Linked DNA regions of Homo sapiens. The protein of the gene in region 1 purifies or fractionates together with the protein of each later gene. This does not show direct contact. Each region holds a gene or a part of one and is shown in the gene's direction. Other genes may lie near its edges. The genes, in order: CEP128, SLC7A11 and POC5.

Region 1 (3,657 bases):
AGAGGCAGGGTTTCACCATGCTGGCCAGGCTGGTCTTGAACTCCTGACCTCAAGTGATCCACCCACCTTGGCCTCCAAAAGTGCTGGGATTATAGGCATGAGCCACTGTGCCCAGCCAAGCACTTTATTCTTATCAGCTTATTTTGCTTTTAGGGAAGAGTACCTTTACTCATTGGTATACCTGTTTTTCATTTGTTTGTTTGTTTTTGTTTTTTGCTTTCTCACCACTGCCATTTACATGTAACAAGTGTACTGATTAAAAAGTTGGGTTTCGGAAATAGTCTTCTTGCCTGGATTTGAATCCTGGCTCTGCCACTTAAGTTACTTTGCTCCTTTAAGCCTTAGTTCTGTTTTCTGTAAAATGGGGATGATAATAATAATGTTATGAGGATCAAATGAGAGAGCATACATAAAGCACTTAGTACAGAAATTAGTCCATAGGAAACTGTAAATCAATAGCTATTATTATTTCAATAAAGTTGAACATTATTATGCCTTTGTATAAATGTAAGCAAGTAATATACCAGTTATAGTCTCATAATTTTACAGAAAAAAAATTAAAACAAATATTCTTTTTTGTCTTGGTTTATATATGTTTCCAGTTATGGGGTCTCCTATTTATTTAGAAGGTTGCTTTAAGATTATGGTTTGAATCCAGGCTTTTCTAGCTACTTAACTACTGGGAGCGTTAGTAGTTCTTCATTTGCAAAAAAGGGACTACTTTGTTCATTTAAGAAGTAAATATTGAATGTGCCGGACACTCAGACACTATGCTGGGGCCTGGGAATAGATGAACAAGAGCTAGTATATGCCCTCAGGGAGGTTAGAAATCCTGCCTTGTAAGATTGGCCTGAGGTTAAGCCAAGCTTTGCAGAGATACTTTACTGTATGCAAAGTATCTGTCATACCTAGGTGCTCAGTAAATGGTGGTTCTCGCGTTTGTACCTCTGATGTTCTGATTTCCAGCTATGTGCTCCAATCGTTAAATCCAGTATGTTTCTACTTTATCGATGTTTTAAAAAACATTTCCTGTTGACCTTTAATTTTAAGGTCTGCTCAATAAACTTTTGCCAAAGGATGGTCTTTGAGTTCTTAGACAAGAAATCATTATCTTCTTCCTGACCCTTAAAATTGGCTGTGCCATAGTTTGCTGAACCATCTGGTACTGTAAAGCAGTTTTAGGATGAAGGCCATTATTTGTGTAACTTATTAAGACAGGAGGCTTGAAAGCTGGGAATTAACTGCAGAGGGTGGGGGAAGTGTGTCACAGTGTTTGCAGGAAAGATGTGTAGCACATCCTCAGCTGGTGGTTGCATAGGACTCTCCACAGTAAGTGACTTGCTTGCATGGATCCTAATGGTAGGTCGGGCTTGTCTGAAGTCTGCCATCTTATTTCTTGTATATCGGACCTCCCTGGCATCAGAGTCTCAAATATTTTGCAATCTAAGGCTTATTTCCCACACATAAATATTCCTTTCTAGCTACTAATCTCTTTCTTCACATATGCAGACTTCCTAAAAGAATGATTTATACACAGTGCTTCTGCTTTTTCACCTCCTATTTACTCCACAACCTGGCATCGTCCTCACCTAAGCATTTTACTGAGACTGCTTTTGATACAGTCACTAGCACTTCCAAAGGATACTTTCTATTCCTTTTCCTACTTGACGTATTTGTTGGATTTGTCCCTCAGAGTTCACTCAGCATTTGCCCCTAAACAGATGAGACAGATGTCCCATAGTAATTTTAACAGGGAAAGCTTAACATACAGCAGAGGTTGATAAGCCATATCCCATGGGCTAAATTTAGCTTACCACAGGTCAAATCAAGCTACCCCATTCATTTATAATTGTCTGTGCTTTTGTGCTACAGCTGGCAGAGGCTCACAGTTGGGCAGAGAAAAAAAATTTGCTGACTCCTGATATAATTAACTATAAGGGGATTATCTGTAAAAGGACAGAGATGACTCTAAAGAATCCCCTGGGCTGACAGACAGTGCCCAAAGGAGATATAAACTTAGAGGGGGCTCTCTGCAAGGCTGGGATTCCTACCTTGTTGGAGGTGTGGCTATAGCTCCCTGAATGGTGGAGAGACTTACTGAGTTACTGGGGCCATAGCTGATCCACAGTTGCTGGGGAAGGAGAGGACACTGTTCCTAATTAAAGGCGGAGTGACGCTGGAAGGCAGGGAACCACACCACGAATGATGGGCAGGAAACACCTCTCCAGGATGCTGGTAGGGTGAAGCTGGGGGATTGACTGTGAGGTTGTCTGTCAGATTCAGTAAGAATCTGAGTAGGGGGTGGGGCTACTGAAACTTGATGGGAAGCTGCCCAATGTGGGTACTGCTGAAACTTGATGGAGTTGAGTACCACTGGATATCCTCACACAGGATGCTGAAATGAAAATGCAACAAATGGAAAACATGGAACCAGAAAGAGAAGCGCCTTCCTTCTGCAGTGTCCTTTTAAAAAATCATTATTATTATTATTATTATTTGGTTTCAATAGCTTTAGGGCAGGGGTCCCCAACCTTTTTGGCACCAGAGGCACTTTTCATGGAGGACAATTTTTTCACAGACTGGGAGGCAGAGAGAAGGATGGTTTTGGGATGATTCAAGTGCATTGCATTTATTGTGTACTTTATTTCTGTTATTATTACACTGTAATATATAAAGAAATAATTATGCAACTCACCATAGAGTCAGTGGGAGCCCTGAGCTTTTTTTTCCTGCAACTAGACAGTCCCGTCTTGGGGTCATGGGAGACAGTGACACCCAAAGTGTGTTGCTTACGTCCATTCTACTCTGTAGTCTCATTTTTGTTGCTGTCACTGCAGAAAAACCTGCTTCACAAAGATAAGATGTTGGAAATGGAAGCAGGCTTTTTGGTGCACAAGGCAATCTCAGGATATTTTGCCTTGACTTAAATCCAGAACATATAGAGGTTTGAAGTTGTCTCAGACATACTTTTAAGGCCAGAGTCATTTGCAATCTCAGGAAGTTGATCCTCTTCTAGCATGGACAAAGTTGATTCACCTGGTTTATTTACAAGTGGGTTGCGGAACCATTTCTTCCCAATTTGGGGATCTTTTATGGTTGAGAAGTATGTTGGTCCATTCTCATGCTGCTATGAAGAAATACCCGAGACTGGGTAATTTATAAAGGAAAGAGGTTTAATTGACCCATAGTTCCGCATGGCTGCGGAGGCCTCAGGAAACCTACAATCGTGGTGGAAGGGATGCAAACACATCCTTCTTCACATGGCATCAGGAGAGAGAAGTGCCAGGTGAAGGAGGAAAAGCCCCTTATAAAACCATCAGATCTTGTGAGAACTCACTACTATCATGAGAACAGCATGGGGGTAACTGCCCCTATGAGTCAATTACCTCCCACCAGTCTCTCCCACGACACATGGGGATTACGAGAACTACAATTCAAGATGAGATTTGGGTGGAGACACAGCCAGACTATATTAGGAAGTAATACTCAAACTCCTTTGAAAGCTGAGATAGATGATCATACACCAGCTGGGAGAAAGAAGGCCCTGGCTCAGTCTCTTTCAAAATCTCTGCTAATATTTGAAACATGTCAAAAATCCCAATGTTCACTGGTTGCCCCCATAATTCTAGTTTTCTCTGAATGCATCCACTTTATCTG
Region 2 (3,657 bases), on another chromosome or scaffold:
CCTAACCAAAGAGAGAAATTATAAAACATACAAGTATCACCAGGCTAATAGAAAGTCATAGAGCAAGTTTGGCCTAAATTGTTTCATTTTATTCCACTTTCTGGCAAGGCATTAATTTGCTTCGTTCTTTCTTTCACTAGACCTTTTCTGAGCGGCTACTGGGAAATTTCTCATTAGCAGTTCCGATCTTTGTTGCCCTCTCCTGCTTTGGCTCCATGAACGGTGGTGTGTTTGCTGTCTCCAGGTGAGTGAGTTCATGTATTTCCAGAAACACATTTCTGTTTTTGAGATTGGATGTGATAAGGATAACTTTAAAAAGAAAAGAAATAGTGCCTCCAAACCTGTTGTTTTTAAAGGGACATGCAAGATTGAAATATTGGTCCAAGTATCAACAGCACGTTTTATTCTGTCCATTAGAGGGCACTGCTTGCCTATTAATAGCTTATTTGGAAGACGGACATGTGGCTTTTTTAAAAATAGTATTTCCACAGTCTAACAATGGCATTTTATTTCTGGTGATATAATTTTCTGTTTCTCTGAAGATGCCAAGAAAAAAGTAAAGTAAGAGACATCAGAAATCACCACCCCTACCATCAGTATTTCCTTTGTTTAGTTTGATGCAATAGTCTTTTTGTTTTAATATACGATTAAAAGCCAATCAGATAAATGTGAATGCTACATATAGGTGTGTGTACCTGTGGATGTGCATGTGTGTGTGTTTGTTGAATTGGATTGACAACACACATATAATACTAGGAATCTAGAACTAGATTTCCCATCAGCTATTTATATGTAGAGAGAGCTATGCTGAGTCAGATATTGCTATTCTTTCTCTTCAAAGAATAATATAATGTTGGCAGATTTTGTAAAATCCAAATTTAGATTTCCTATGATATTTCTCCACCTTATTTGAAAAGTGAACTTAGGCAATCACCTAAGGAATACCTGACCATTTGGTATGAAAAGATGCACGTTTTCTCTGGGATTTTTGGATTTTCCCTTTGAAATGATCAATCATACAGTCAACTCCACCCACATTTCTCTCCCATCAGGTTATTCTATGTTGCGTCTCGAGAGGGTCACCTTCCAGAAATCCTCTCCATGATTCATGTCCGCAAGCACACTCCTCTACCAGCTGTTATTGTTTTGGTAATGCATATTAACAAGTATATCTAGATATAACCTTGAATAATAGGTTAGCAAAAAGGAATTCCAACCAGACATTAGATAGTATTTTACTTTCTCATTCATTGCTAATGTATGTCATGGTGGAGTTTGGGAGGCAGGATATCTTCCATCTCTTCCCTTTACTCCATGTTTCTGATGCCTATTTTTTTTGATGCTTTGGGGCAAAAATCATCATCACCTCACTTTCATCTTTGCAGAAATGTGTAAGGTCTAAGGAAAATGATTGGCTTGGCTCCTCTCATTGACATAGCACCTCACAGAAAAGAATGTAGAGTATTAAGTCCCAATGACTTAAGGAAAGTAGAGCAAAAAGCTACAGTCCAAAAAGTACCCAGATGTATCATCTAGGCACCTTATAATGAAATGCACACAAAATTATTGAAACAATTGATAAAATCCTAGACAGTGCCATGATTCATTTGAGACATTTGAGAGCAAGTGTCTTTTATCCTGCAGGATAAAAATAAAAGCACCACGAGGTAAATTTGAGTTGTAAAATTCTTTCTGCAGAGCAAAGTGTGAAATGTGAGCTACAAAAGACTGTATGAGGTGTAAAAGTCCTCAAATACCCATTGGCAATGTTATATTCATTTTTACTGATGATTTTGTAACATTTCTCTCAACTGGAGTCTGTTGTCAGGAGCACCACAGAATGCACTGAACATTTTTTTTTCATGCATTTAATTTGTTTCAGAACGTTTCCTTGAAATTTCTTTTTAAAGTATGTGTACTCTCTGTGCAGAATCTGGATGTTAACGTCACTTGTGGGAACAGAATGTATTATTCCGTGAAGAGGGCTTTCATTTTAAGCCTCTGCTATCAGTCATGCTGTCCTTGGCATGTGCAGCTGCAGAGACTTGCTAAGCTGATCTCTGCGCTTCATTCTTCTCCGTGGTCTTGAGGGTCACACACGGCAAGCACACCAGGAGAGTAAATGTGGAGGAAAAAAGGTCAATGTTTTGCAATCAAGAGCCAACAGAATCACCTATGAGTGTCTGTGTTTCCTGGGTGTGGATAGCCAAGAGCTCACCGGAGAGCATTTGCAGAGCTTTCTGTAAATCTTCCAATTGGGCCTCTTTTACTGTTCATTATCGGTTATTTACTAATCATCTCAATCTTTGAGTCTTTCAATTTTGAGTCATTGAGTAACCTTTCTTTTACTCTTTGAAGACATACTATCTTCTCTCAAATGCAAAAGGAACTAAAAACACAACACAACATTCATATAGAATTCCACTTGAATAAAGTATAATGGCCATATCACTCTCATACTGTTACTGGTGTGTAAATGGATTATGACAACAGAATATAGAAAAGAGATTAGTCAAATCCAAGTTTTAACTATGATGATAATTTATCGGTATAAATAATTATTTGAAAAAGGTCGTAATGCATAGTGAGGTTTTTGTTGTTAATCATCTGTGTTTTCACTGAATTCACCAAGCTTGCTTCCCTTTCCCCCCTCAGCACCCTTTGACAATGATAATGCTCTTCTCTGGAGACCTCGACAGTCTTTTGAATTTCCTCAGTTTTGCCAGGTGGCTTTTTATTGGGCTGGCAGTTGCTGGGCTGATTTATCTTCGATACAAATGCCCAGATATGCATCGTCCTTTCAAGGTAACCTCAGCAATCTTGATGGGTTTACATAAATCTCTCTCCTAATACCTAGTCCTCCCTTTGTCATAACTTGCTGATGGGGAGGTTGGGCTGGGGGCAGCATCTGTGGAATAAAAATGTTTAACTCTTGCAGGCAGTGCTTTCCTGTTGGATTTATTTTAAGTTGGAAAAAAAACAGTGGATCCAATTTTTTATGTGATGGGCTTGAACTTTGTATGTCAAATTTTTGAAAAATGACTGTATGAATGAATGTTTGGTATGTTGATTTTTCATGAATGTGTTCAATGACCTGATATACTCAAAGTATGGGCTACTTCTGTCTGTCTTTATGCTAGAGTTGTGGACAGCCATGGTGAGGAGGAGTAAGGGAGATACTTTGTTAATGCCAATTCCAAAAAGGAATTTGCCTTTACAAAATAGGCATTTTAAGTACTTAAATGTTGTGACTTGTTACATTGCTCTTTCTCTATATTATACACTCCAAAAAGAATAGAAATGTAAAATATACAGGGAAAGAGAAGATCTACAAATTTACCACTTGATACCCATTTACCATAAGTAAGCATCTCCCTTTTGGAGGACTGGAGAAAAAGCTTGTCATCTTCTTCAGACTTGACTCATGGATTGATTTGACCTCACGATTTATTTGTTTTTAAGAAATGGCATAGATAAGGTTGTCAGTCATGTTGTCAGGATTTGTTTCTAGTAATATTCATTGCCTAATGCTGGTGGCATCTTTATTAGCGGTTGAATAGGAGTTGGCTTGTTTTATTCCTGTCAGTTATTATTGTGGATCTCAACAGAAAAATCAATATGCACTGAAAGACTTTAACATGTAACAAGCAGCCGGTG
Region 3 (3,657 bases), on another chromosome or scaffold:
CAACATGGTGAAACCCCGTCTCTACTAAAAAAATTAGCTGGGTATGGTGGCACATGCCTATAATACCCGCTACTCGGGAGGCTGAGGCAGGATAATCTTTTGAACCTGGGAGGCAGAAGTTGCAGTGAGCTATATCACACTGTTGCACTCCAACCTAGGCAACAAGAGCAGAAATCCATCTCAAAAAAGAAAAAAAGAAATTGAAATTATTTTTTCCCATTGACTTTTAATAATAAAATTAACATTGTTTTCATGGGAAAACATTTGGAATTGAAATGAAATAAAATCCATTCTAAAGAATGCAATAGGCCTCTTGAAGTTAAATATTAAAATGAAAAAATAACTCATTACAGCATTAAATTGTTAAGATTAAAAATAAATCCATAATACAAATAATTTTCTGCAGTTCACTACGACATGCAAAAAATGCAGTCCCCTGAGGTTTGGCCTATGGGAAAGTGTGTTGTACCTAGGGTCACTCTGCACTTCAAATACTGAAGGTAACATTTACATTATAAAAATTCTGTTAATATTGCAGGCATGTAGTTTATTTTATTTTTTTCTGAAAGGGCTGTCTGTGGCTCTTAATGTATTTTGTTTAACATCCTACATAAAAGTTTTACAGTAAAAAATGGTGTATCTTTTTGTGAAATGAAAATACATCAGCAATATTCAATGGGACTGGATAAAATTCCCCTTGTTTGAACCTTGATTTTAAGGTTAGGAATGAAAGCATTTTGTTGATGGAGATAATAGAGGTAAGAGGTACCTTTTAAAATAAATTGCACATAGCAGAAGAGGTAAGTGACAAACTTTTTAATATTTCACATGAGAATAATCTCAAAGTATATATCTATTTTTTTGACAGTATTCTTCTTTGTATCTCAAATTGTTTTGCTTTTTAAACATTCTTATTTTAGTTATCTGGAGCTTTGGAAAATGCAAAAGCTGAGATTCAAAGAATGCAACATGAAAAAGAGCACTTTGAAGATTCCATGAAAAAAGCTTTCATGAGGGGTGTATGTGCATTAAATCTTGAAGCCATGACTATATTTCAAAACAGAAATGATGCAGGTTAGTATTTCATTAAAGTTTCTCTGCCTAATTTCAAAAAAAGATTTGAGGAGATTTTGGTGATTGGTATGGTCTACAGTACAAATAATCTGCAGTAGGTATGTTTCATCCAGGTGCTGCTATTCTTAATTCTATGGTGTCATATCCAGACTTAAATCTGCCATGAAAATGAGCTCAGTCATGGTTACTTATGGTATCTTAGATCTGATCAAGTACACTGTCACTCCTAAGTATTTAAGCTAAATGTTGAAAATAATATTTTAATGTATAGCATTATTTTAAATCTCTTTTAACTAAGAATTTTAATGCCTTTTTAAGTACAAAACTTCTAATTTTGTCTTTTCTTAAGTAGCCAAATATTTTGGACTATTTTGGTAAGTATTTGTTATCTAGTCATGGTTTCTCATTTTAGAAATTCCTAATCTTCCTGTTTATGAAAGGCCTCAACTAAGCTCATTGCAGCAAACATAAATATAGACCTATCTATAGAAGTAATTTTATTTTTTTTAAAAATCCACATATTGTCTGACATAAGAGTGGTTTGTGTAGTAGTTTTGTCAGCATGGCGTAGAAAAGCCCATAACTAGAATCCTTTGCCACCAATTTACCCAGGGGCCTGTTTTCCTCATTCGGCCTTAGATTTCTTCTCTGAGCGAAGGAGATAATATAAACCTTCCTTACCTGCTTCCTAGGGGCTTCTTGTGGGATGCAGTAAAACATATCTGAAAACACTTTAAAAGACAAAATGCACTTTAACGTGTAAGATGATAGTCATGATGTAATTATTAATAGTTTTAATTCAAGTCAACGTCTCAAGATTTTGTAAATGATTAACATGATTTCAATCCAATGAATAACTTCTCTGTGCTTGTGATGCCCTTATTTTAAAACATCAACAAACATTTATTATTTAAAGCATGCATATTGTGGATAGGAGTAAGTTTAGGCAAATTGCTTTCTATCTGAAGTGGTTGTGGTTTGTGGGCCATATTTAATTTAGAAACTGAGAATCATGGAATCTCAAGGCTGAATAGTTTATTTTGGTAATACCTAGGTGAGTACTTGATTTTTCCAATAAATGGTCTTTTATTTGAGTATCAGGGTTGAAAACAAACTCACCACCTTCAATGATAGAATAGTCTGTTTCAGTTCTAAGTATCAGCAAGTTGTGTGTCACAAATTGAGAAATTTAATTGTTTACTTGGGAGAAATATGAGTTTCACAAGTAAAGTGACAAATTCCTATTAGAACTTCTTACATTAAATTACAAGAAACCTGTTTCTTATAACCTACTTAAAAAGATTTTGAATTGACTTAGGAGTATTTCCCACCTTAATACATTTACCATCTTAAAATGTAAATTGAAATGCAACTGTGTCTCCTAAAGGCCAATATCCATAAGAGGATTTGAAGAAAATGTCTTCTGCTAATTACACAACATGATTTCTTTTGCTCCTGTTACTTTTGAAACAATCGATGAGAAAGATGACAAGAATGGTAAAGCATGCATTAGCAATAATGTTGGTAGAGCTACCAAAGGCAAAAAAGTTCAGTATAATTCAGTGGATCTGCTTTGTGATATTTAGGTTTTATGACATTTTAATGACACCTATTTTTTTTAGTTCTCATAAGAAAAAAAAATTACTTTTGGCCCCCTTCTATTAAAACAACTGTTTTTTATAGGCCAGGCGCGGTCGCTCACACCTGTAATCCCAGCACTTTGGGAGGCCGAGGTGAGTGGATCACGAGGTCAGGAGATCGAGACGATCCTGGCTAACATGGTGAAATCCCGTCTCTACTAAAAATACAAAAAATTAGCCGGGCGTGGTGGCAGGCACCTGTAGTCCCAGCTACTCAGGAGGCTGAGGCAGAAGAATGGCGTGAACCCAGGAGGCAGAGGTTGCAGTGAGCTGAGATCATGCCACTGCACTTCAGCCTGGGCGACAGAGCGAGACTATCTCACAAAAAAAAAAATTGTTTTTTATAATGCAGTTTTTAATAATGTAAAGTTCCTAATGCATCTGTCTTGTTAGAGCAAAATAAATATTTGGTTTTTTATTTGTACCGATTCTTTGCTGTCTGTAATTTGCAGTACCTCTCATGTTGTGCAGTATCTTAAATCTTACAAATTAGAGGTTTTTATGAAGAAGTTAGAACATGACAAAAAGTCCTTAAAATTATATCTGCCAATTTTACTGTGCCAATTAGGCACAGTAAAAAAAAATACTTGACAAGTGAAAAATTTATTCCAGCTAAAATGAGATTAATTATTAAACTTAAGAGTTATCTGATATCAGCCTATATTAGCAAGAGTTGATCACCTGCCTCTCTTCCCTGACCTTCATACTGTTTCTACATCTCCTAATGTCTGCCACCATCTAAAGATAGACACTCAGAATCTCTACCAAAACAAGTTAAAACTCAGTGTGTGTTTTGTTTTCAAATTAAAAGTATTTTATATTGAATTAGTCCCTTTCATCAGAGGAGTTCAAAGGATCTAGGTAGGCACTGTAATCATTGTTAAACTTCTTAAATAAGCTAACTAACTAATACTCTGCAAATTTTCTATACAGATAGTCTAAG

What was found.
Region 2: the proteins of CEP128 (region 1) and SLC7A11 fractionate together in Homo sapiens (co-fractionation; one large-scale study listed by BioGRID). This does not show direct contact.
Region 3: the proteins of CEP128 (region 1) and POC5 purify together in Homo sapiens (co-immunoprecipitation; one large-scale study listed by IntAct). This does not show direct contact.

Annotation. Positions count from the first base shown.
Region 1 is NC_000014.9:80,931,729-80,935,385, reverse strand, and holds part of CEP128 (centrosomal protein of 128 kDa), read left to right. Parts: intron 1-3,657.
Region 2 is NC_000004.12:138,179,789-138,183,445, reverse strand, and holds part of SLC7A11 (cystine/glutamate transporter), read left to right. Parts: intron 1-140; coding exon 141-244; intron 245-1,052; coding exon 1,053-1,149; intron 1,150-2,655; coding exon 2,656-2,805; intron 2,806-3,657. UniProt on the Homo sapiens protein: Heterodimer with SLC3A2, that functions as an antiporter by mediating the exchange of extracellular anionic L-cystine and intracellular L-glutamate across the cellular plasma membrane.
Region 3 is NC_000005.10:75,686,429-75,690,085, reverse strand, and holds part of POC5 (centrosomal protein POC5), read left to right. Parts: intron 1-920; coding exon 921-1,074; intron 1,075-2,757; coding exon of another isoform or gene 2,758-2,876; exon of another isoform or gene 2,877-3,138; intron 3,139-3,657. UniProt on the Homo sapiens protein: Essential for the assembly of the distal half of centrioles, required for centriole elongation. Acts as a negative regulator of centriole elongation.